7 linked regions of the Homo sapiens genome follow. The protein of the gene in region 2 purifies or fractionates together with the protein of the main gene of each other region. This does not show direct contact. Each region holds a gene or a part of one and is shown on either strand. Other genes may lie near its edges. The genes, in order: CTNNA1, SLC25A22, PRRC2A, WDTC1, CASP3, NUDT21 and NCOA5.

What was found.
Region 1: the proteins of SLC25A22 (region 2) and CTNNA1 purify together in Homo sapiens (co-immunoprecipitation; one large-scale study listed by IntAct). This does not show direct contact.
Region 3: the proteins of SLC25A22 (region 2) and PRRC2A purify together in Homo sapiens (affinity purification with mass spectrometry; one large-scale study listed by BioGRID and IntAct). This does not show direct contact.
Region 4: the proteins of SLC25A22 (region 2) and WDTC1 purify together in Homo sapiens (affinity purification with mass spectrometry; 3 studies listed by BioGRID and IntAct, with this or other methods). This does not show direct contact.
Region 5: the proteins of SLC25A22 (region 2) and CASP3 purify together in Homo sapiens (co-immunoprecipitation; one large-scale study listed by IntAct). This does not show direct contact.
Region 6: the proteins of SLC25A22 (region 2) and NUDT21 purify together in Homo sapiens (affinity purification with mass spectrometry; one large-scale study listed by BioGRID and IntAct). This does not show direct contact.
Region 7: the proteins of SLC25A22 (region 2) and NCOA5 purify together in Homo sapiens (affinity purification with mass spectrometry; one large-scale study listed by BioGRID and IntAct). This does not show direct contact.

The regions. Positions count from the first base shown.
Region 1 is NC_000005.10:138,777,425-138,780,924, forward strand, and holds part of CTNNA1 (catenin alpha-1), read left to right. Parts: intron 1-3,500. UniProt on the Homo sapiens protein: Associates with the cytoplasmic domain of a variety of cadherins. The association of catenins to cadherins produces a complex which is linked to the actin filament network, and which seems to be of primary importance for cadherins cell-adhesion properties.
Region 2 is NC_000011.10:792,629-795,281, reverse strand, and holds part of SLC25A22 (mitochondrial glutamate carrier 1), read left to right. Parts: exon of another isoform or gene 1-18; intron 19-112; 5' UTR 113-275; coding exon 276-295; intron 296-380; coding exon 381-506; intron 507-693; coding exon of another isoform or gene 694-768; coding exon 769-824; exon of another isoform or gene 825-829; intron 830-1,662; coding exon 1,663-1,753; intron 1,754-2,293; coding exon 2,294-2,412; intron 2,413-2,515; coding exon of another isoform or gene 2,516-2,554; coding exon 2,555-2,653. UniProt on the Homo sapiens protein: Mitochondrial glutamate/H(+) symporter. Responsible for the transport of glutamate from the cytosol into the mitochondrial matrix with the concomitant import of a proton. Plays a role in the control of glucose-stimulated insulin secretion.
Region 3 is NC_000006.12:31,627,215-31,630,714, forward strand, and holds part of PRRC2A (protein PRRC2A), read left to right. Parts: intron 1-550; coding exon 551-1,025; intron 1,026-1,929; coding exon 1,930-2,120; intron 2,121-2,333; coding exon 2,334-2,631; intron 2,632-3,376; coding exon 3,377-3,500. UniProt on the Homo sapiens protein: May play a role in the regulation of pre-mRNA splicing.
Region 4 is NC_000001.11:27,290,132-27,293,631, forward strand, and holds part of WDTC1 (WD and tetratricopeptide repeats protein 1), read left to right. Parts: intron 1-2,083; coding exon 2,084-2,266; intron 2,267-3,500. UniProt on the Homo sapiens protein: May function as a substrate receptor for CUL4-DDB1 E3 ubiquitin-protein ligase complex.
Region 5 is NC_000004.12:184,627,196-184,629,821, reverse strand, and holds the end of CASP3 (caspase-3 isoform a preproprotein), read left to right. Parts: intron 1-320; coding exon 321-550; 3' UTR 551-2,126; downstream 2,127-2,626. UniProt on the Homo sapiens protein: Thiol protease that acts as a major effector caspase involved in the execution phase of apoptosis. Following cleavage and activation by initiator caspases (CASP8, CASP9 and/or CASP10), mediates execution of apoptosis by catalyzing cleavage of many proteins.
Region 6 is NC_000016.10:56,437,833-56,441,332, reverse strand, and holds part of NUDT21 (cleavage and polyadenylation specificity factor subunit 5), read left to right. Parts: intron 1-1,586; coding exon 1,587-1,676; intron 1,677-3,500. UniProt on the Homo sapiens protein: Component of the cleavage factor Im (CFIm) complex that functions as an activator of the pre-mRNA 3'-end cleavage and polyadenylation processing required for the maturation of pre-mRNA into functional mRNAs.
Region 7 is NC_000020.11:46,072,963-46,076,462, reverse strand, and holds part of NCOA5 (nuclear receptor coactivator 5), read left to right. Parts: intron 1-3,500. UniProt on the Homo sapiens protein: Nuclear receptor coregulator that can have both coactivator and corepressor functions.

The sequences.
Region 1 (3,500 bases), on a different chromosome or scaffold from region 2:
GCAGAGACGCTCCTCACTTCCCAGACGGGGTGGCGGCCGGGCAGAGGCTGCAATCTCGGCACTTTGGGAGGCCAAGGCAGGCGGCTGGGAGGTGGAGGTTGTAGCGAGCCGAGATCACGCCACTGCACTCCAGCCTGGGCACCATTGAGCACTGAGTGAACCAGACTCCGTCTGCAATCCCGGCACCTCTGGAGGCCGAGGCTGGCGGATCACTCGCGGTTAGGAGCTGGAGACCAGCCCGGCTAACACAGTGAAACCCCGTCTCCACCAAAAAAATACAAAAACCAGTCAGGCATGGCGGTGCGCGCCTGCAATCACAGGCACTCGGCAGGCTGAGGCAGGAGAATCAGGCAGGGAGGCTGCAGCGAGCTGAGATGGCAGCAGTACAGTCCAGCTTCAGCTCGGCATCAGTGGGAGACCGTGGAAAGAGAGGGAGAGGGAGACCGTGGGGAGAGGGAGAGGGAGAGGAGGGAGAGGGAGAGGAGGGAGAGGGGGAGGAGGGAGAGGGGGAGGAGGGAGAGGGGGAGGAGGGAGAGGGGGAGGGGAAATGTTTCTTAATCTGTCTTTTTTTTTTTTTTTTTTTTTTTAAACAGAGTCTTGCTCTGTGGCCCAGGCAGGAGTGCAGTGGCACCATCTCCACTCACTGCAAGTTCTGCTCCCCCAGGTTCATGCCATTCTCCTGCCTCAGCCTCCCGAGTAGCTGGGACTACAGGCGACCGCCACCACGCCCGGCTAATTTTTTGGTATTTTTAGTAGAGACGGGGTTTCACAGTGTTGACCAGGATGGTTTCGATCTCCTGAACTCGTGATCCACCCGCCTTGGCCTCCCAAAGTGCTGGGATTACAGACGTGAGCCTCCGCGCCCGGCTGCTTTGACATTTTTCAAGACTACAGCCAGTTATTTTGTAGATCGTCTCACGCTTTGAATTTGATGTTGCCTCATGACTAGTTGAGGTTATGTAATTTTCAGGCGAAATAACACAGAGGTGATGTTGTATCCTTCTCAGTGCATCGTGTTAGGAGATACGTGATGTGGGTTTGTGTCCTTATTAGGGACAGTAATTTTGATTACTTGGTTAAGGTGGCATCTCAGGTTTCTGGACTGTGAAGTTACTATTTCCCCCATCTGTCATAAATAAATAATCTGTTGGGAGTTACTATGACACTAGATCACGCTACTGAGAAACTGAATGCTAATCTACTTGGTTAGCATTCTTTGATTCTTGCCTGAGGCAATTAATATTATGGTTCCTGAATGCTGATTTTTCTAAATACATTGTTCTTTCTACATTTATTAGTTTGTTTCCTATTGTTTGGAAGAACTTTTCCTTCTTTATTCATATTAGCATGGACTCATGCATTAGTCAATGGATCATACTTTGTTCTATCTAATCTCCACTAAAGCTCTCTGAAGAAGGCAGTGGTTGGTAGTCTTTTATGAGGGATCTAGTTCAAAGTTACGTTTTTTTTTTGAGATGGAATCTTGCTCTGTTGCCTAGGCTGGAGTGCAGTGGCATGATCTCGGCTCATTGCAACCTCTGCCTCCCAGGTTCCAGCGATTCTCCTGGCTCAGCCTCATGAGTAGCTGCGATCACAAGCAACCGCCACTACGCCTGGCTAATTTTTGTATTTTTAGTAGAGAGAGGGTTTCACCACATTGGCCAGGCTGGTCTCGAACTCCTGACCTCAGGTGATCCACCCACTTTGGCCTCCCTAAGTGCTGGAATTACAAGCATGAACCACCATGCCTGGCCAGTTTTCACCCAGTAGTTTTGACATTCATTGCTAATCCTTGGCTGGATCAGTTTTTACCAGTGGGGGTTGCAAGATGGTCATTTTCTAATTCTATTCTAGATTCATGGTAAAGAAATTCCCTCCCCATACCCTTTCTTTTGAGGATCCCTATGGTCTTAAGGATATTTATTTAATTATTTAGTTACAGACAGTTACAGTCATTATTCTCTTTGATAGTTGTCCTAAATTTGGCTGATGGGAGCCCTTGCTTCCTGTGTCTTTTGATATGATCTTGTTAGTCTTGTCCCCTTTCCGCACAATACAGTGCTTCAGACCTGGAACTTTGGTTTCTATTAATGGGAAATGGTCCGTTTTTTAAAAAAAAAATAAGTAGAAATGGGATCTCTCTGTGTGGCCCAGGCTGGTCTCAAACTCCTGGGCTTAAGTGATCCTCCTGCCTTGGCCTTCCAAAGTGCTGGTATCACAGGCATGAACCACCATGCAAATGGTATTTAATAGAAATAAATACTTGGGCACTGATAACACTGGTTTTTTTTTGTTTTTGTTTTTTTTTTGAGACAAGAGCTTGCTCTGTTGCCCAGGCTGGAGTGCAGTGGTGCGATCTTGGCTCACTGCAACCTCCACCTCCCAGGTTCAAGTGGTTTTCCTGCCTCAGCCTCCTGAGCAGCTGGGATTACGGGCGTGTACCACCACACTGGACTAATTTTTGTAGTTTTAATAGAGACGGGGTTTCACTATGTTGGCCAGGCTGGTTGTTTTGTTTTTTAATTTGCCAACATTGTTTTTAAGAGTAACATTGTAGCCCGTTGTGTCATTGTTACATAATTTATTGAGTGATCTGTTGTTTGAAATTTAGGTAATTTATAACTTTTAATGTTTATATAAAGCAGTGTTGTGAACATCATTGTATCCCAGTTTTTACATGTTCCTTAACTTTAGAATAAGATTTTAGCAGTAGATTTTCTGGGTCATACAAATGTACTTTTTAAAGATTTTATTTTATTTATTTATTTTATTTTTTATTTTTTTGAGACGGAGTCTTGCTCTTTCGCCCAGGCCGGACTGCAGTGGCGCTATCTCTGCTACTGCAAGCTCCGTCTCTGGGGTTCACGCCATTTTCCTGCCTCAGCCTCCCGAGTAGCTGGGACTACAGGTGCCCGCCACTGCGCCTGGCTAATTTTTTTTTTGTATTTTTAGTAGAGACTGGGTTTCACCGTGTTAGGCAGGATGGTCTCAATCTCCTGACCTCATGATCTGCCCGCCTCAGCCTCCCAAAGTGCTGGGATTACAGGCGTGAGCCACTGCGCCTGGCCAAGATTTTATTTTTTTAATTTTTATTATTATTATTATTTTTTAAGATGGAGTTTTTTTCTTGTTGCCCAGGCTGGAGTGCAATGGCACAATCTCGGCTCACTGCAGCCTCTGCCTCCCGGGTTCAAGCGATTCTTCTGCCTCAGCCTCCCGAGTAGCTGGGATTACAGGCGTGCACCACCAGCCTGGCTAATTTTGTATTTTTAGTAGAGACAGGGTTTATCCTTGTTGGTCAGGCTGGTGTCGAACTCCCGACCTCAGGTGATCTGCCCGCCTTGGCTTCCCAAAGTGCTGGGATTACAGGAGTGAGCCACCACGCCCAGCCTTTAAGCTTTTAAATGTCTACCAGCAGTTTGTTGTCTAGAAAGTTTATATTAGTGTTTACCTCAGCTTCATGCCTTTTCTTTTCTTTTTTTCTTTAATAATTGAAGGCA
Region 2 (2,653 bases):
CGGCTTCAGTCTGGGGTGGTGGGTGAGGGGCTGCGTGAGAGAGGGAGGCTGGGGGAGGATTACTCTTCGGGTGGCCCCACCCTCACTCATTCCCATTCCCTCATCCTTCTAGGACAGAAGTGGCGGTTGCTGACGCCTGGAAATTCCCCTGAAGGTGGAGCACCACCCAACCCCCCTGGGTCCCACCCTCCCTCAAGGCCTCCTCCACCTCCACCTCCACCCCGCCTGGCCTGGCGTCCACCTCTGCGGCTCCTACCTGGGTGCAATCGAGTTAAATGGCTGATAAGCAGATCAGGTCAGACTCCAGTCCTGGCTGCGTGCCTCACCCCCACCCTGACCCATGGTCAAGGAAGCCGGTCCTGACACCCCTGTCCACACAGCCTGCCAGCCAAGCTCATCAATGGCGGCATCGCCGGGCTGATCGGTGTCACCTGCGTGTTTCCCATCGACCTGGCCAAGACCAGGCTGCAGAACCAGCAGAACGGCCAGCGCGTGTACACGAGCATGTGAGTGTGCCGGGCGGTCGCGGGGAGTGGGCCCAGCATGTGGCAGCAGGAGAGGTGGGGGCTCTGCTCCTGTGCCCCCCACCCTGTTTGACAGAAGGGAAACGGGAGGCAGGCGGGCCTAGGGGAGATCCCACGTGGGTCAGGACTGGGGTCGGGGCTGGGCTGAGGACTTGGCCTCTTCTATCAGCCCTAGACAGTCCAGGGACCCTGGCCTCCGGCTGGCCCCAGCTGGCCCTGGCTCACCCTGTCCCCTTGGCCACAGGTCCGACTGCCTCATCAAGACCGTCCGCTCCGAGGGCTACTTCGGCATGTACCGGGGTGAGGTTTGGCTCGGCTGGGCTCGATATGGGCAGGCCTGGGTAGCGCCCGCGAGTCGTGGCAGGGAGCGGTGGGGGAGGCAGGGCAGGGCGGCCAGCCTGGGCCTGGTGTGTGAGCGTGGACGTGTTTGTGGGGGCTGTGCCTGTGCAGGGGGGACTGGATCTCTGGTGAGTGGTAGTTCTCAGCCTCTCCCGTGGCAGCTCCCCACCCCCACTTAGTGCCTGGTGCGTGGGATGCCATGGTACATCTGTCTCTTCTCTGGTGGCCACAGCTGCCTCTGCCTTCTGGGCCAGGCTGGACCCCGTTTGTGGCTGGGGATGGGAGGGAGTAAGGGGCATTACCGCAAAGCAGCTTAGGACACAATCCAGAGCCTAGATTTGGCAGAAGCTCTCCAGCCCTGAGCCTTCGGCACTGAGATGGGGGCTCTCCACAGCCTCCCCCGAGCTCTGGCCCAGTCCAGACCACACACTCCTGTGACCTCTGGCCCCAGCCCCCTGCCAGCACAAGCACCATCTGTCCTCCAGGGAGGGAGAGGTATCCTAGGGAGGCCTCAGGGGCTCCGGGGCAGTCCTCATGCCCTGAGCAGCAAGATGCTGCCCAGAATCAGAGACAGATGGAGCTGCAGTGGGCATGGGAGAGCCTGAGCCTGAGGTGCTGCCCCATCCCTGCCTGGCCCCGCCCCACCTGGCACACACCAGGCCCAAATGTGGGTGAGAGAACAGATGGTGGCCAGGAGTGACTGGGACAGGGTTTTGCCAGCCAGGAGGCAAGTCCTGGCCAAGCGCCTCCCCACTCAGGCCACCGAGCATGTCCCCCCAGCTGACCCCCTGCCCCACAGGAGCTGCTGTGAACTTGACCCTCGTCACCCCCGAGAAGGCCATCAAGCTGGCAGCCAACGACTTCTTCCGACATCAGCTCTCTAAGGACGGGTGAGGGTTCTGCCTGGCAGACACTCGAGGGGTCTTTGGCTTCAGATAAAGGATGGGTCCACCCTGCCAGCTGGGTCCCACCTGGGGGCTCTGCCTGTCTTCAGCCCCTTGCTTGGGGCTTCTTTGACCTCGTGGGGCACCCTCCCTCCTTTCCCCTGACCAGGGGAGCAAAGCAGATGTCAAATCAGTGGGGCTCTGGCTTGGTAGCCCTTGGCCTGAGGGCACTGACCAGCTCCCCCATCACTGGAGGGGGACTGCAAGGGCAGCCCCTTTTTGGGGCACTTGACCCCCAATTTCCCATTTTCCTTTGTCGCAGACAGCCCCACTGCCCTCCCCAGGCCCCTGCCTGTGGGGCCGTCTGTCCATCGGTCTCCTCCCTGCCTGCTGCTGCAGTGGCGGAGGCTGGGGGCTGTACCCCCACAGGCCTGCATCTGCCTCCACGGCTCCCACCATCCTCTGCGCCCAGGCATGGTGGGCAGCCCCGAGGGTGGCAGGTAGACCTGTCTCTTCCCACTTACTGCGGCCCCGCCCCTACCACAGGCAGAAGCTGACCCTGCTTAAAGAGATGCTGGCGGGCTGTGGGGCTGGCACCTGCCAGGTGATCGTGACCACGCCCATGGAGATGCTGAAGATCCAGCTGCAGGATGCAGGGCGCATTGGTGAGGGCGGGGGGAGGGGGAGGAGAGGGCAGAGGTGCGGGAAGAGGTGAGGGCGAGGGGAGGGTGGGGACGCAGGGAGGGCCAGAGCGTGTCCCCTGCCCAGTTCGCACAGAAGAGGAGACAGCAGCCTCTTTGTCCCCAGCCGCCCAGAGGAAGATCCTGGCTGCCCAGGGCCAGCTCTCGGCCCAGGGGGGTGCCCAGCCCTCAGTGGAGGCTCCAGCTGCCCCTCGGCCCACGGCCA
Region 3 (3,500 bases), on a different chromosome or scaffold from region 2:
AGGGATTGAGAGGGTCAGCTGTGGGAAATTGGTGTCAGCTGAGTAATTGAAGCGGTTGTGATATAGAGGAAGGGGGGTGCTAAAAATGGGCTGTGTGAAGTGCCAGGCTGCAGAACATCCTGGGAAGCTTTTAAATATCTTTGGTAATAGGGGAGTCTGGGTAAGAAGTGAGAAACTGGGATGCTAATGAGGAAAGAAGAAAAAGGAGCCCTGGGTGTTTGGGTTTCGGAAGGAGAGAGGGAACAGAAAAATAAAAAGACTAGGGTGGCTAGATAGCTGGATCTGTTAGTATGCATCAGTAGTCCAAGCTACTCAGCAGGCTGAAGCAGAAGGATCACTTGAGCCCAAGTTCAAGACCAGCCTGGGCAACATAGCAAGACGTGGTCTCAAAGAAGACCAGGATAATGAGTTTGTCACCACCCAGAGAGATCAACCCCAAAGCCTGGGTCGTTGCATCCTGCAAGTAGCGACAGTTGATTTGTTGTAAAAGAGATGATAGAAAGCATAGTAACTGATTCCCCTGGCCCTGCTGGGTCTTGCCAATTGACAGGATCGTGGGGGTCCTCCCTGCAAGCCCCCAGCACCTGAAGATGAGGATGAGGCATGGCGGCAGCGACGAAAGCAGTCGTCATCTGAGATTTCCCTGGCAGTGGAGCGGGCCCGGCGACGGCGAGAAGAAGAGGAGCGGCGCATGCAAGAAGAGCGCCGGGCAGCCTGTGCTGAGAAGCTCAAGCGACTCGATGAAAAGTTTGGGGCACCTGACAAGCGGCTCAAAGCAGAGCCTGCTGCCCCACCTGCTGCCCCTTCTACCCCAGCTCCACCACCTGCAGTCCCTAAAGAACTCCCTGCACCTCCAGCTCCACCTCCAGCATCAGCCCCAACACCAGAGACAGAACCTGAAGAGCCAGCACAGGCCCCTCCTGCCCAATCTACTCCTACTCCAGGTGTGGCTGCGGCTCCCACTCTGGTGAGTGGTGGTGGCAGTACCAGTAGCACCAGCAGTGGCAGCTTCGAAGCCAGCCCAGGTATGGAGATGGGGATAGGTACTACCAGATGTCAGATCACTGCTTCAAGGTGCTTAAAGGTGCAGGGTGGTAAGGCTGGGGATAAATGAAGTAGAAGGCAGTTGTTTTGGTTTATTGGACTATCAGTGATAGTGTTCTATCATTTGTATATCTGAAGGAGGGAAGGTTTTGTCTGGAATCTTAGGTTGTAGTCTAATACCATTTCTTGGCAGAGTACTGTAGCTCACGCCTATAATCCCAACACTTAGGGAGGCTTGGGGTGGAGGATCGCTTGAGCCTAGGGAGTTTGAGACCAGCCTGGGCAACAAAGCAAGACCCTGTCGGCCAGGCATGGTGGCTCACACTTGTAATCCCAGCACTCTGGGAGGCCGAGGCGGGCAGAACATGAGGTCAGGAGTTCAAGATCAGCCTGGCCAACATAGTGAAACCCGTCTCTACTAAAAATACAAAAATTAGCCAAGTGTGGTGGCATGTGCTTGTAGTCCCAGCTGCTTGGGAGGCTGAGGTAGTAGAATCGCTTTAACCCGGGAGGCAGAGATTTCTGTGAGCCAAGACCATGCCATTGCACTCCAGCCTGGGTGACAGAGCAAGACTCTGTCTCAAAAAAAAATCCTGTCTCACAAGAAATACATAAATAAAAATGAAAACTATTTCCTATAGGCCAAGACTGAAGAAAGTACTGTTGTTCTAATGGTTTCATAGAAAGTTAATGCCACCACCATAGGCTCATGAGAGGCCATGAAGTGCTTTAATGGGTCTTAAATGGGAGGGGCTTCAATAGAATAGATGTTGAATAGAATATTTTAGTCTTAAGGGAGCTAGAGATGAGACGTGAGATTCCTGGGGTGTTCATGGAGTGTCTATTGTTGGACTAGATCACTCTGTTGTGTTTTTTCCGATGCAGTGGAACCACAACTGCCCTCAAAAGAGGGTCCTGAACCACCAGAAGAGGTTCCTCCTCCTACCACACCCCCAGTTCCAAAGGTGGAACCCAAGGGTGATGGGATTGGTCCCACCCGCCAGCCCCCTAGTCAGGGCTTGGGCTACCCCAAATATCAGAAGTCGTTGCCTCCTCGTTTCCAGCGGCAGCAGCAGGTGAAATCAAGTTGTTTACCCTCTAAGGGCTGCTTTTCTTCCTGGCTTCGGTCCCTAATTCTCTTCATAAGTTACCTTCTGGGTCCCTTTGCTTCTTTGTCCAGTTGTCTCCATTGTCACGCCAATTTCCCCTAGTCCAAGTTTTTTCTTTGCTGATTCCTTTGTCCATGTGTGCTTTGAGCCTCTCTCATCTTGTCTTTCCTCCTTTCCTAGGAGCAGCTCCTGAAGCAGCAGCAGCAGCACCAGTGGCAGCAGCATCAACAGGGCTCTGCCCCTCCTACCCCAGTGCCCCCATCACCACCACAGCCTGTGACCCTGGGGGCTGTGCCAGCTCCACAGGCTCCACCCCCGCCCCCCAAGGCCCTGTACCCAGGTGCTCTGGGCCGGCCCCCACCCATGCCCCCAATGAACTTTGATCCCCGATGGATGATGATTCCTCCTTATGTGGACCCCCGGCTCCTCCAGGGTCGTCCCCCTCTAGACTTCTACCCTCCTGGTGTGCATCCCTCTGGTAAGGGGGCATGGGAGGAGTGAGAAACAGGAAAGTCCCCTCAGTCTTAGGCATTGGATATTAGGGTCTTACTGTGACTCTGGTACGATAGGTTTTGCCCATCATAGTGATGAGGGAAGGGCATATGCTTGGCACTGCTGAGATAGCTCTGTTGCAAAAATGGGCTTAGTTAAGAAATAAGCAGTGGTTGGCCAGGCATTGTGGCTCACGCCTGTAATCCCAGCACTTAGGGAGGCCGAGGTGGGCAGATCAACTGAGTTCAGGAGTTCGAGACCACCATGGCTAACGTGGTAAAACCCCATTTCTACTAAAAATACAAAAAAGTAGCCGGCGTGGTGGCGCTCGCCTGTAGTCCCAGCTACTCGGGAGACTGAGGCAGGAGAAACGCTTGAACCCAGGAGGTGGAGGTTGTAGTGAGCCGAGATTGTGCCATCGCACTCCAGCTTAGGCAACGAGCGAAACTCCGTCTCAAAAATGAATGAATGAATAGCACAACTCCATCTCAAAAATGAATGAATGAATGAAAGAAGCAGTGGTCCTTCATTTGCCAGGATTTATTTGGGGTGGGTTGATTCTCTTGTAGGGAATCTGAGTGGATAACCTTGTTATATAAGAGCAGGCAAGGCCCGGACCTACTGGGAACAAGAGATGGAAGAGCTGACTTGACCGCGAGGGGAGATGCTTTTTGGGCTGGAGGGCTTGTGACATGAATAGGATTATTTTTCTTTTTCTTTGGTTTCTTCAGGCCTAGTTCCCCGAGAGCGTTCAGACAGTGGGGGCTCAAGCTCAGAGCCATTTGACCGTCATGCACCTGCTATGTTACGGGAACGGGGCACTCCACCGGTGGATCCAAAGTTGGCCTGGGTAGG
Region 4 (3,500 bases), on a different chromosome or scaffold from region 2:
AGTGCAGTGGCGTGATCATGGCTCACTGCAGCCTTGACTTCCTGGGCTCAGGCGATTCTCCCACCTCAGCCTCCTGAATACCTGGGACTACAGACACGCTCCACCATGCTTGGCTAATTTTTCTATTTTTTTTGTAGAGATGGGGTTTCTCTGTGTTGCCCAGGCAGGTCTCAAACTCCTGGGCTCAAGTGATCCTCCCACCTCGGCCTCCCACAGTGCTATGATTGCTGGTGTGAGCTACCACACCTGGCCTTATTTTATTTTTACTTATTGGTTTACTTTTTTGTCTGTATCCTCACTAAATAGTAAAAGTAAACTCTCTTAGAGCAACTCCATGTCTGTCTTGTTCTTGGTTGTATCCCTAGAGCCCAGCACAGCGCCTGGCACATAGAGCCGCTTGATACATTTCTCTTGAACAGTTGGTCAGTGGCTATATACCTGGGAGGGGGCAAGCCACCCGGAAATGGTAAAATGGACTGTCCCCTTTTCCAGTGCCCTGCATTGTTACACATTTGCCTCTACTTCCCTTCATTCTAAAATGGTGTCGTTGCCCTTCTTTAACTCCTTTCTTCAGCTGTGACCTTAGAACTTCTTTCTTATCTCCCCAGCCTGCTTTAATCTGTCTCCCTTGAGTTCCTGTAGGACTTTGTGCCCTCTTTCCTTTTACAGATGAGGAATATCTAAGTCATATATAAATTATAACATAGTCAAGAGCAAGGCAGTGAAGTCAGACAGACCTGGGGTCAAATCCTAGCAATCGCACTCAGTATTTGACTGGGGTAAGTCACTGCATCCCTGAACCTCAGAAGACAGAATGCACTTTGTCAGTGGCAGGTCCAACTCTGTGTAGCACTTTTTGACCTTGGCTGACCAGATTTTGCCAGGGCCAGCTGGTAGAAGCGGAGCGTCTAGCGCATTGGGTAGGATCCTAAGTGTTTAGGCATAGGCACAGTCAGAGAAGGTGTCCTAGCAGAAGGTGAACATAAGCTGGGCCTTCCAGAACAGACAGGATTTGGATGAGCAAGGAAAAGCAGAGTGTATTCCCCAGCTTGAGCAGAGTTTGCAAAGGCAGAAATAAACATGGCATGTGCAGGATAAAGAATTCTGTAGTTATAATTGACCCACATTTAGAAAACTGAGGAATAAGGTTGGAGAGAAATGTGAAATTGAGTCTTGAAAACCAGACTGAGGAGTTTGGTAAAAGTAAACTTGTGCTAAAAGTATTGAGGAATCTCTGCAATTTTTTTGAGCAGGAGAGTGATGTAAAATAATATTTTAGGAAGAGCAGCCTGGTGAAGATGGCTTAGAAAGACAAGGTGAACAGCAAAGAGGTGATAACAGATGTCTAGGCAAGAGGGGAGAGCATATAGGTGATGTCCCCCCTACCCACCACTCTCTGAGGATACCTGTGTATTGGCAGCACAAAGTTTCCCCGTCTGGAGCGGTGGGAGTTTGCTGCTGTTTGGTAGACTTTTTGGCATTACCTTTACTGCGTGGATGAGACTTTTAGGCTTGCCTTGGCCCATGGTATATCTAGATAGCTCTTAGATGATCTGCAGAGTCTCTTTTCTGTCACCTCCATACCTTGTTTCATGAAAGAAACTAGATTAGGTAGGAACGGAGCAGTGTTTAAGATGCAGTCTCAGAAAGCTTCCCCAGCTCTGCACTTACTAGCAGTGTCATCTCAGTCAGGTTATTCAACATCTTTGAACTTCAGTATTCTAATGATACCTAGGGATGGCGTTAGGAATTAATTAAGGGGCAATACTGGACATAAAGCACATTTTCACTAAGTGTTGGTAATCAGTAGTAGTATAATAGTAGCAATAATACTAACATCTGTAGAATATGTACAATAGTATCCACCTTAGGAGTTCTAGTAGAATAGAATGTGTGAGAAGCCTACTACAGGTACCTGGCACACTGTGGACACTCAAGAAATGGGAGTTGTTTTTGACATTCTTATTTAGAAACAGGTCCAAAGTCCCTCCCAATCCTCTTGCATAACAAGAACTTATCTTTTCCCCTGCCTTCCTCTCAAGGACCCCAAGCCCCAATTCCCTAACTCTGTCCTCTCTCACAGCCAGTATGACCTTCGAGAGAACAGCAAACACTCGGAGGTGCTGATTGACCTGACAGAGTACTGTGGCCAGCTGGTGGAGGCCAAGTGCCTCACTGTCAACCCCCAGGACAACAACTGCCTGGCAGTTGGGGCCAGCGGGCCCTTCGTGAGGCTCTATGACATCCGCATGATCCATAACCACAGGTATGAATAGTTCAGCCTCCTGTCTCCTGTGAGTAAGTCCCCAGAGAACCTACTGCCCCTTTCCCTCACTGCCATTGCCATGCCCTCTTCTTCTATCACAGCTCACTGCAGCCTCAACCTCCCAGGCTCAAGCGATCCTCCCATCTCAGCCTCTCAAGTAGCTGAGACTACAGTCACACGCCACCTCGCTTGGCTAATTTTTTAATTTTTTTATAGGGGCGGGGTCTTTCCTTGTTGCCCAGGCTGGTCTCAAACTCGAGCTAAAGCAATCTTTCCACCTCGACCTCCCAAAGTGCTGGGACTACAAGCATGAGCCACTGTGCCTGGCCCCTTCTTTTATTTATTTATTTATTGTTTTACTTTTTTTTTTTTTTTTTTTTTTGAGACAGAGTCTTGCTCTGTCACCCGTGTTGGAGCGCAGTGGCACAATCTCAGCTCACTGCAACCTCTGCCTCCCGGGTTCAAGCTGTTGTCCTGCCGAGTAGCTGGGATTACAGGCACCTGCCACCACACCTGGCTAATTTTTGTATTATTAGTAGAGACGGGGTTTCACCATGTTGACCAGGCTAGTCTTGAACTCCTGACCTCAGGTGATCTGCCCGCCTCGGCCTCCCAAAGTGTTGGGATTACAGACGTCAGCCACCACACCCAGCCTGGCCCCTTCTTCTTTATGAAATGGACTTTCTTCAATTTTGTGATTTTTTAAAAAACTTAATCCTCGCTTATGTTGGAAAATATGAAAAGTATAAATTAGGCCGGGCGTGGTGGCTCACGCCTGTAATCCCAGCACTTTGGGAGGCCGAGGCAGGCGGATCACGAGGTCAGGAGATCGAGACCATCCTGGCTAACACGGTGAAACCCCGTCTCTACTAAAAATACAAAAAATTAGCCGGGCGTGGTGGCGGGTGCCTGTAGTCCCAGCTACTGGGGAGGCTGAGGCAGGAGAATGGCGTCAACCTGGGAGGCGGAGCTTGCAGTGAGCAGAGATCCTGCCACTGCACTCCAGCCTGGGTGGCAGAGTGAGACTCAGTCTCAATTAAAAAAAAAAAAAAAAAAGTATAAATTACCCATAATCTCTTACATAAATTCCTTATGATTTCCTTATATTTATTTATTCTTATAATTTCTTATATAAATCTCTTATAGTGTCTTTCTTAAAGAAATCACTGTATATAATATTTCCTGCTAGTTCTTATAACACTCAGAACCCCCACAGCACTCTCAGACCTGAGTT
Region 5 (2,626 bases), on a different chromosome or scaffold from region 2:
ACTTTTGCATCTTACCTTCTGCGTGTTTGCTCTTCTTGCCTATTGAAAGGGGAGTCCAGAAAGTAAAACTTTCAATAATTCAGTGTTCGTGAAGCTGGTCCCCGGCCAGCTTTGCTGAAAGCAGGGGGTGTACGCATAGCACACATTCGTCCTTCAGCATCATTTCTTCTGAAACCAAAGGTGTCTTTTTTTTTTTATTTGTATGACTAATAAGACTTATGTAAGTTTATGCTTATTTTTGCCTTTATGACTACATAATAATTTATAGAATCAACTAAAATCAGCTATCCATGGTATTTTGCTTGTATTTTGCCTTTTAGGTTATTATTCTTGGCGAAATTCAAAGGATGGCTCCTGGTTCATCCAGTCGCTTTGTGCCATGCTGAAACAGTATGCCGACAAGCTTGAATTTATGCACATTCTTACCCGGGTTAACCGAAAGGTGGCAACAGAATTTGAGTCCTTTTCCTTTGACGCTACTTTTCATGCAAAGAAACAGATTCCATGTATTGTTTCCATGCTCACAAAAGAACTCTATTTTTATCACTAAAGAAATGGTTGGTTGGTGGTTTTTTTTAGTTTGTATGCCAAGTGAGAAGATGGTATATTTGGTACTGTATTTCCCTCTCATTTTGACCTACTCTCATGCTGCAGAGGGTACTTTAAGACATACTCCTTCCATCAAATAGAACCACTATGAAGCTACCTCAAACTTCCAGTCAGGTAGTTGCAATTGAATTAAATTAGGAATAAATAAAAATGGATACTGGTGCAGTCATTATGAGAGGCAATGATTGTTAATTTACAGCTTTCATGATTAGCAAGTTACAGTGATGCTGTGCTATGAATTTTCAAGTAATTGTGAAAAAGTTAAACATTGAAGTAATGAATTTTTATGATATTCCCCCCACTTAAGACTGTGTATTCTAGTTTTGTCAAACTGTAGAAATGATGATGTGGAAGAACTTAGGCATCTGTGGGCATGGTCAAAGGCTCAAACCTTTATTTTAGAATTGATATACACGGATGACTTAACTGCATTTTTAGACCATTTATCTGGGATTATGGTTTTGTGATGTTTGTCCTGAACACTTTTGTTGTAAAAAAATAATAATAATGTTTAATATTGAGAAAGAAACTAATATTTTATGTGAGAGAAAGTGTGAGCAAACTAACTTGACTTTTAAGGCTAAAACTTAACATTCATAGAGGGGTGGAGTTTTAACTGTAAGGTGCTACAATGCCCCTGGATCTACCAGCATAAATATCTTCTGATTTGTCCCTATGCATATCAGTTGAGCTTCATATACCAGCAATATATCTGAAGAGCTATTATATAAAAACCCCAAACTGTTGATTATTAGCCAGGTAATGTGAATAAATTCTATAGGAACATATGAAAATACAACTTAAATAATAAACAGTGGAATATAAGGAAAGCAATAAATGAATGGGCTGAGCTGCCTGTAACTTGAGAGTAGATGGTTTGAGCCTGAGCAGAGACATGACTCAGCCTGTTCCATGAAGGCAGAGCCATGGACCACGCAGGAAGGGCCTACAGCCCATTTCTCCATACGCACTGGTATGTGTGGATGATGCTGCCAGGGCGCCATCGCCAAGTAAGAAAGTGAAGCAAATCAGAAACTTGTGAAGTGGAAATGTTCTAAAGGTGGTGAGGCAATAAAAATCATAGTACTCTTTGTAGCAAAATTCTTAAGTATGTTATTTTCTGTTGAAGTTTACAATCAAAGGAAAATAGTAATGTTTTATACTGTTTACTGAAAGAAAAAGACCTATGAGCACATAGGACTCTAGACGGCATCCAGCCGGAGGCCAGAGCTGAGCCCTCAGCCCGGGAGGCAGGCTCCAGGCCTCAGCAGGTGCGGAGCCGTCACTGCACCAAGTCTCACTGGCTGTCAGTATGACATTTCACGGGAGATTTCTTGTTGCTCAAAAAATGAGCTCGCATTTGTCAATGACAGTTTCTTTTTTCTTACTAGACCTGTAACTTTTGTAAATACACATAGCATGTAATGGTATCTTAAAGTGTGTTTCTATGTGACAATTTTGTACAAATTTGTTATTTTCCATTTTTATTTCAAAATATACATTCAAACTTAAAATTACCAATGTCTTTGAGTTTTTTGTTGCTGTTGTTTTTGATGTTGTGCCACTAATTGGAAGTTAAAATGTTTTTAATCAGAAGCTTGATTTGGAAGAGTCAAAGAGGAAGCACCAGAACCCTAGCCTAGTTTTTTGAGGTGGTGGCAGTTAGATCAGGGCAGACAGATCGCTTATGCTTCCCAAGTCCTCGCAGAAGTTCCTGACCCTGAAATGACCACAATGCCAGGAAGATACTTTGTTTGCATAGATCTCAGGCCTTAAATATGACCATATGTGTGAATTTGAAACTTTTTCCACAAGATAAGTGTCTAATGGGAAGAACAACCTAAGAGGATATACAACAAGCCGTTGATGTTTACTGATGGCCTCCTCTGGGCGCTGGGATTTTGACAGAGGAATTTGCTGTCTTTTTACTTCATATGCTTAGAAAAGGAATATAGGAAAGTGGGGTTGTGGGTGGTTTTAAATTTCTTCCAATATTTCTGTAATGAAAATATATTAC
Region 6 (3,500 bases), on a different chromosome or scaffold from region 2:
CCTGGGTGGTGGAGGTTGCAGTGAGCCAAGATTGCGGCACTGCACTCCAGCCTGGGCAACAGAGCGAGACTCTGTCTCAAAAAAATAAAATAAAATAAAATGAAAATCAAGAAACTGTCATAAAAGAATATTTTGGCTGGGCATGGTGGCTCACACCTGTAATCCCAGTGCTTTGTGGGGCTGAGGCCGGAAGATTGCTTGAGGCCAGGAGTTGTAGTGAGCCATGATTGCGTCGCTGTGCTCCAGCCTGAGTGACAGAGCAAGACCCTATCTCTTAAAAAATGTAGTTTTGAGGCCCGGTGCAGTGGCTCATGCCTGTAAGCCCAGCACTTTGGGAGAGTGAGGTGGGCAGATCATCTGAGGTCAGGAGTTCGAGACCAGCCTGACCAACAGGGTGAAACCCCATCTCTACTAAAAAGACAAAAAATTAGCTGGGCATGGTAGCATGTGCCTGTAATCCCACCTACTCCGGAGGCTGAGACAGGAGAATCACTTGAACCTGGGAGGTGGAGGTTGCAGTGAGCCGATATTGCGCCATTGCACTCCAGCCTGGGCAATGAGCAAAACTCCGTCTCAAAAAAAAATTTTTTTTTTGAAAAATATGACTTTACATTGAAGAAACGTGATAAACAGTACCTCAGCCCATTAGTGATAAGCCATATTGATATAGCATGTACCTTTGATATGACGTGATGAGAATGGCCCTTTTACCTCTGTAGTTTTCTTCCCAAAAGCTCATAACTTCAATTTAATTGAGGGATGTTTTACAAAATACTTGACCAGTATTCCTCAAAGCTATCAAGATCATCAAACACAAGGAAGGTATGAAAAGCTGTCACAATGTAGAGGAACCTCGGAAGAAATGAAGATTAAGTGTAATATGGTATCTTAGATGGGATCCTGGGACTGAAAAATGAAAAAGGACATTAGGTTAAAGACTATGGATATCTGAATAATATATGGACTTCAGTTAATAATCTTGTCTTGGTATTGGTTGATTAGTTTGACAAATGTGCTTTACTAGTGTGAGATGTTAACAGTCGGGGAAACTGTGTGGGGTATATGAGAAGTCTCTGAACAAGTTTTGCAAGTTTTCTGTAAATCTAAAACTATCCTAAAATAAACCGTTTATTTAAGACCAAGAAGAATGCTTTTAAAAATAGAAGAAAACATGAGGGGAAAAACAACCAAGAGTTGAAAGTTACAGCCAGTGGGAATGGGTGAAGCAGGACAGAGAACTGCAGTTTCTCACCATGAACATTGTAGAACTATTTTTGGCCACTTAAAATATGTAGAGTATGACTTTGGTTAAAATAAGTTTAGTGTTCTGCTATACAAATTAATAAAAATGAAAGCTGAATTTTGAACACAATTTTTATGTTGATACTAGCTTGCCAGTTTTGAACTAATATTGTATGTCTTGGGCAGAGTGACATCTATATTAACAAATCATAGAAAATCTGTATGGAAGGCATATTATCCCTATGTTTCAATTAGGAGCACTGCTAAGAATTTTCTGTTCACTGAAGAAGGGGATTTGTGAGTACATATATTTAGTTGTTTACTGGCTTATTTCTTTTTGACAGATACTGGGTCGTCAGGATGGAGTTTTGCAAGACTGGGTCATTGACGATTGCATTGGTAACTGGTGGAGACCAAATTTTGAACCTCCTCAGGTCAGTGTTCAGTTACATTTGCTGGGCATTTTGGAAGCAGAAAGCTCGTTTAATTCTAGCCACTTTAAAAAAGATTAAAGTAGAATTTGACTTGAAATTTTCTTTTCTTCCCTCCTTAATTTAAATTACAAAATTAAGCCAAGCACTTCTTATTTTAAAGGAAAATGTAAAACAAATACAAGGCCGGGCGAGGTGGCTCATGCCTGTAATCCCAGCACTTCAGGAGGCCGAGGCGGGTGGATCACCTGTTGAGGTCAGGAGTTTGAGACCAGCCTGGCCAACATGGTGAAAGCTCGTCTCTACTAAAAAATGTAAAAATCAGCTGGGTTTGATGGTACAAGCCTGTAATCCCAGCTACTCCGGAGGCTGAGGCAGGAGAATTGCTTGAACCTGGGAGGCAGAAGTTGCAGTGAACCGAGATTGTGCCATTGCACTCCAGCCTGGACAACAGTGAGACTCCTTCTCAAAAAATAAATAAATAAATAGAACAAATACAAAAGAAGAGAGAATGGTAAAAGTGAATGAATTGCGCTACCCGTCGTCTGCCTTTAACAGTTAGCACATCACAACCCCTCATTCCACCGCTTCATTCTCCTACCCTCATCTTGGATTATTTTGAAGTGTATCCTAGCTATTCATTTCAATTGTAAATATTTCAGTGTGAATCATAAAAATAAGGATCTCTTTAAAAAGATAACTATAGTACTGTTATTATCATACTAAAAATAAACAATTCCATATTATTGTCAAATATATAGTCACTGTTCGCGTATCCTGATTATTTCTATTTTCTTTTTATAATTTGTTTGGATTAGGATAGTCTCTAAAGTCTCTTTTACACACTTGGCACCTTTTTTTTTTCCTTGTGTTTTATTTGTTAATGAAAACAGGCTAATGTTTCCATTTCGATTGCATTCCCCTGTTGTTGTTGAATATGTAGCTGTTTCCCCTGTGTGTCTTGCAAATTGATAGTTAGATCTAGAAATTGTATTCAGGCTCAGTTAATTTGGGGAGGGGTAACAAGGCTTGTCATAGGCGGTATATAATCTATACCTGCATAACAAATTACCTCAAAATTTAGCAGCCTTTAGGCCTCTGGGAGTTGCTTAGGGTGGTTCTGGCTTAGGCTCTGTCATGAAGTTACAGTCAAGTTGTCAGCTGGGACTGCATCATAAGGTGGAACTGGGGTTAAAGTATCTGATCCCGAGCTTACACGTGTGTGTGTTAGCAAACTTCTTAGTTTCATCTGGGCTGTTAGACTAAAGCTTTGCTTCAGGTGTTGCTGGCTGTTGTCTCAAGGTCTCCCTCAGTTCCTTGCCATGAGAACATCTCTAAAAGGACAACTCTCAGGCAGCTGGCTTACCCAAGGCTGTGTGATCCAAGAGATAGTGAGAGACAGAGTGCTAGAGGAGTGCCCAAGTAGGAAGCCTCAGTCTGTGATAACCTAATCTTGGCAGTGGCATACCATCACTTCTGCTGTGTGCTATTGGTCACACAAGCCAACCCTGGTACGCTATAGGAGGGACTACACAAAGCAGTGAATACCAGGAGACAGGAATCATTGGGGGTCATCTTAAGGCAGTCTATCACAATTGGTATAGTGTACTTCCATCAGGAATTTAAAAATATTTGGTTGTTTCTTGTTGTAATGTTAGCAGCTCATTGATGATCATTTCCTGGTCTATGAATTCATAAGGGTTGTGATCCTCATATAAAAAGAAACTTATGTATTACTGAAGTGTGTGGTTTGTGTAGAAAAAAAAAATATGCTGCTATTCCTTTACTTAACATTTTTCAGAAGAATGACTTAATTCCTTAGCATCC
Region 7 (3,500 bases), on a different chromosome or scaffold from region 2:
CTGATCATACTTTATCTCTTAAGATATACCAATAGGGCAGACATAAATTGCAAAGAGTAGGTGAGACGGGCAAGTAATTAATCTGGAAGGGGCAAATCATTTAACTGAGGGTGAACACTGGGTACCTCCTTTGGGTGCATGCTTCCAGTCAAAGCCTTGAGATAACTCCAAATGTATCAATAGTTGACAACAACAAACTGCCTTTATTTGGCAGCCCTAATCATTTTGTATGCCCCCAGCCACAGGGGGTGCATCATTCACAGGGGAAAAAAAACACTACCTATGGCAAATATTTCCTAAAGTTATACCTCTACATTTTTAGCGCTTTCTACGTTTAATAAGAATATTGGTATAAGCATACTGGCAAGACCTTTATAACACCTTGTTTTGCTGGACTTAACGTAGGTATCTTTGGGAGTTTTACAGGATTATCACCTCTTCAGATGTTTCAGTAAACCACAGTTCTGCTGGCTTTGCTCTCTATTCAATAATATGACTCCCTGATGACTCCAGCTGTCAGTGTGTAATTCTGACAATATTGGCCCAGCCAAGCACAGAACTCTGCATGAGGAATCTCTGCTCTGGATCACATTTCAGCCTGAATTCTTATCATCTAACTCTTGAGGGCCACTTCATTGAACTCCTGTGAGTACCTTGCATAGTTACCATGCAAGTTGTCAAGCATCGATACTAAGCATTAGTCCTTCTTCAAAGACAGGATCATGATTCCAGTTGTGCCTTAGATATCTCAGTTACCATCTTCAGCTCAACACCTTGACAGTCCAGATCTTGTAGCATATCTTTATGCAGATGTGGCCTCTAGGTACAAGAAGTAAGACTGTACTTCTGAATGACTTAAAGAAGAACAAATAGAATTAACTTGTCTGCATCCAACGCTCTGCAGAGGATTTTTCCCCATATATTTGTGAAAGATGTTAAACCTGGTATCTCTTTGGTGAAAGTCATTGGGTATCGGCTCATCAGAAATAACCTGGCTGTAGACAAGTTTCTTATATGACCTGAAATGCTTTCTGCTTATCCACAGGGCCCTAATGCTTTTGATTATTGCTTGCTCCCTGGTTGTGAGACAGCCCTTGCTCTAGGTGGGCCACAAAGAAATTCCAGGTTGTGATTACCTCTGCAGTAACACTTGAAGAAGTCATCAGTTCTCAGCAGCTGCCACCTCTACCAATAAGAAAGTTCTGTTTGTGCTGGAGAAGGTTGTCAGTGCTTCCTAAGGAAAAGCATGGACATGTGTAAAATTTGGGTCTGTGAGGTGTGATATCTCATTGCACGTCCATATCCTACCTCCACCTAATGGCAATATTCTGGACAAGTCTGTTGTCTCCATTTCTAACAGTAGCATGAAGCCCTCCTGGTGGAGGATCAACATCATACAGCAGCCAGCCATTTAGATGATGATATTTGTGGACAGTATATCTGTGACAGAAGTTTGAAGAGCTAATGAAGGATTTTTCAGGGTCAGAAAGAGGCTGGCCCTCCCAAGGAAGACATTCCGGTGAACAGAAAGGAAGAAAGGAGATGCTGACCTTTGCAGAAAAGAAAGAAAAAGACAGGGGTCTTCCTCCCTGACCGTCTGTAGAACCAAAGCCAAAGAAAACCATCTTGGATGTGAAGTTTCAGTCTCTTGCCAAAGAGAAATTCAAAGTCCATCACAGTTTTCCAAGATGATCATCTATCAGTTCTTACTCTGTAGGCTGTCACATGCCTGGTGCTCTGCACACCCCTTTAGTCCTCAGGAAGAGACACATTCTACCAGAAGCTCATCACTTGCCACCAGAGCCATTGTTTTCCCCTTCACCCCTTTCGCCCTTACGTCTCAAATGTTTCCCAGCAGTGTGACTATATTCCCCTCAAGGCAAAGAGTATTTGCCTTTTTCCCCCTCCTGAATAGATGAGGAATTTACAGCAGAATTTTAGTTGTGTTTGCCACCTGCCTTCAGTTTGTGGACTCCAGTGCTGAAATTTAACCACTGTTCAGTTTCTTTTTATCCTCTAGTGATGTAGTACCTGAGGGTATGCTGCATTTGGTTCCTTTAGTAAAACACCTCTGGTGCTGTGGGATGATATTGTTAACCTTATTATGCTCCAGAAACCTGATTCTAACCCACTTATCATCTGAGGTCCAGCGTCTCCCACAGGAAGCTTTGTCTTCTTGCACTTTGATTCGTGCATACTACTGCCCTTTTGTTAGCTGTAGTCTTGTTTTGAAAAATATGTTGGGGCCAGCAGCAGGAGCCCTTTTGTTCTGAGGAGTTCTTTGTTTGGGTCCTAAAGCAACCCTAAAGGGTTTTTTGTTTTGTTTTCGTCTCCAGAAGAACAGCAGTCTACCATAGTGTTTATCTTTTGGAGAAAGGAAAAAAGGCTTTGCCTTTCCTTTTGAGAAAATTATTATCTTCTTTGTCCCTACTTCCACCATGCCTTTGGTTCTTTTTCCTTTTGTGAATATCACCTCTTCTACATTTTTACCCTGAAGGCACTTGAGAGGGAATTAGTAGTTTTGTTGCACATGGACTTCAAATTATTTGAGGGAAAGGGTGGGGCTTGCCCTCTCAGACTGGAAGATTGAACCCAGACTTTGCGAATCTAGAGTTTTAGTCAACTTGCAGGGATGGACTTTGACAGGTAAGTAAGGTTTTTCAGTGGATTCAAAAGAATGAGGACCAATCATAACATAACACTTATAATACTCCGAAGGTGGTAAATAACATGCTATGACATGCCCCACCCCGATTTCCACCAGCCCAAGGCTTTGTGTGTGGTCTGTGGTCTGTCAGGATCATGATATCTCAGCCCTGATTGCCAAGAACACTTGAAATTGGATTCCACCTCTAATGACTACTTCTAACTGCTCCCCAAGGCAGGTTTATCTGCCGATCATTAATCCAAAAATACTTTGCAGTTGTCCTTTCTCTTTGGATCTTGAGTGTTTGCCCACATTACATGCTACATCAGATGTTACATGTTAGGAAGATTATATGATGTAATAAGGAAGGTTGAAGTAAGAATCTTGGTTAGTCTTTACTTTATTCTAATAAGAAAAATAATGCTTAGCTATTCTCATTTAAAGTCCCTGGTCTATGATATGTTTGCTCTCACAAGTCAGGAATGCTGGTGAACCTTAGAATATATAACAAATATTTTTCATGGAAGCAAAATTGGCATTTAAATTGTTTTTGCTGTGCCCGTGTAGCTGAGGTGAGGTTTTCCACAAGCTGATGACATCATGATGAATACCTAACGTGTGTAACCATGGTAGACGACAAAAGTATGAGCAAAACATGCTGCCTGCTCTTGAGAGGCTTACAGTTTAGTAGAATAATTCAATTCATTAAACATTTACTGAACTCCTATGGTGTATCCTAGAGCTACAAAGCCTTCAAGAGAACTTCTTATTTGGTAGGGAAGCCACGTAAACAATTACAGAACAGTGTGGTAAGTGCGGTTATAGAAGTTTGTACTGGAGCAAGATTCATTCA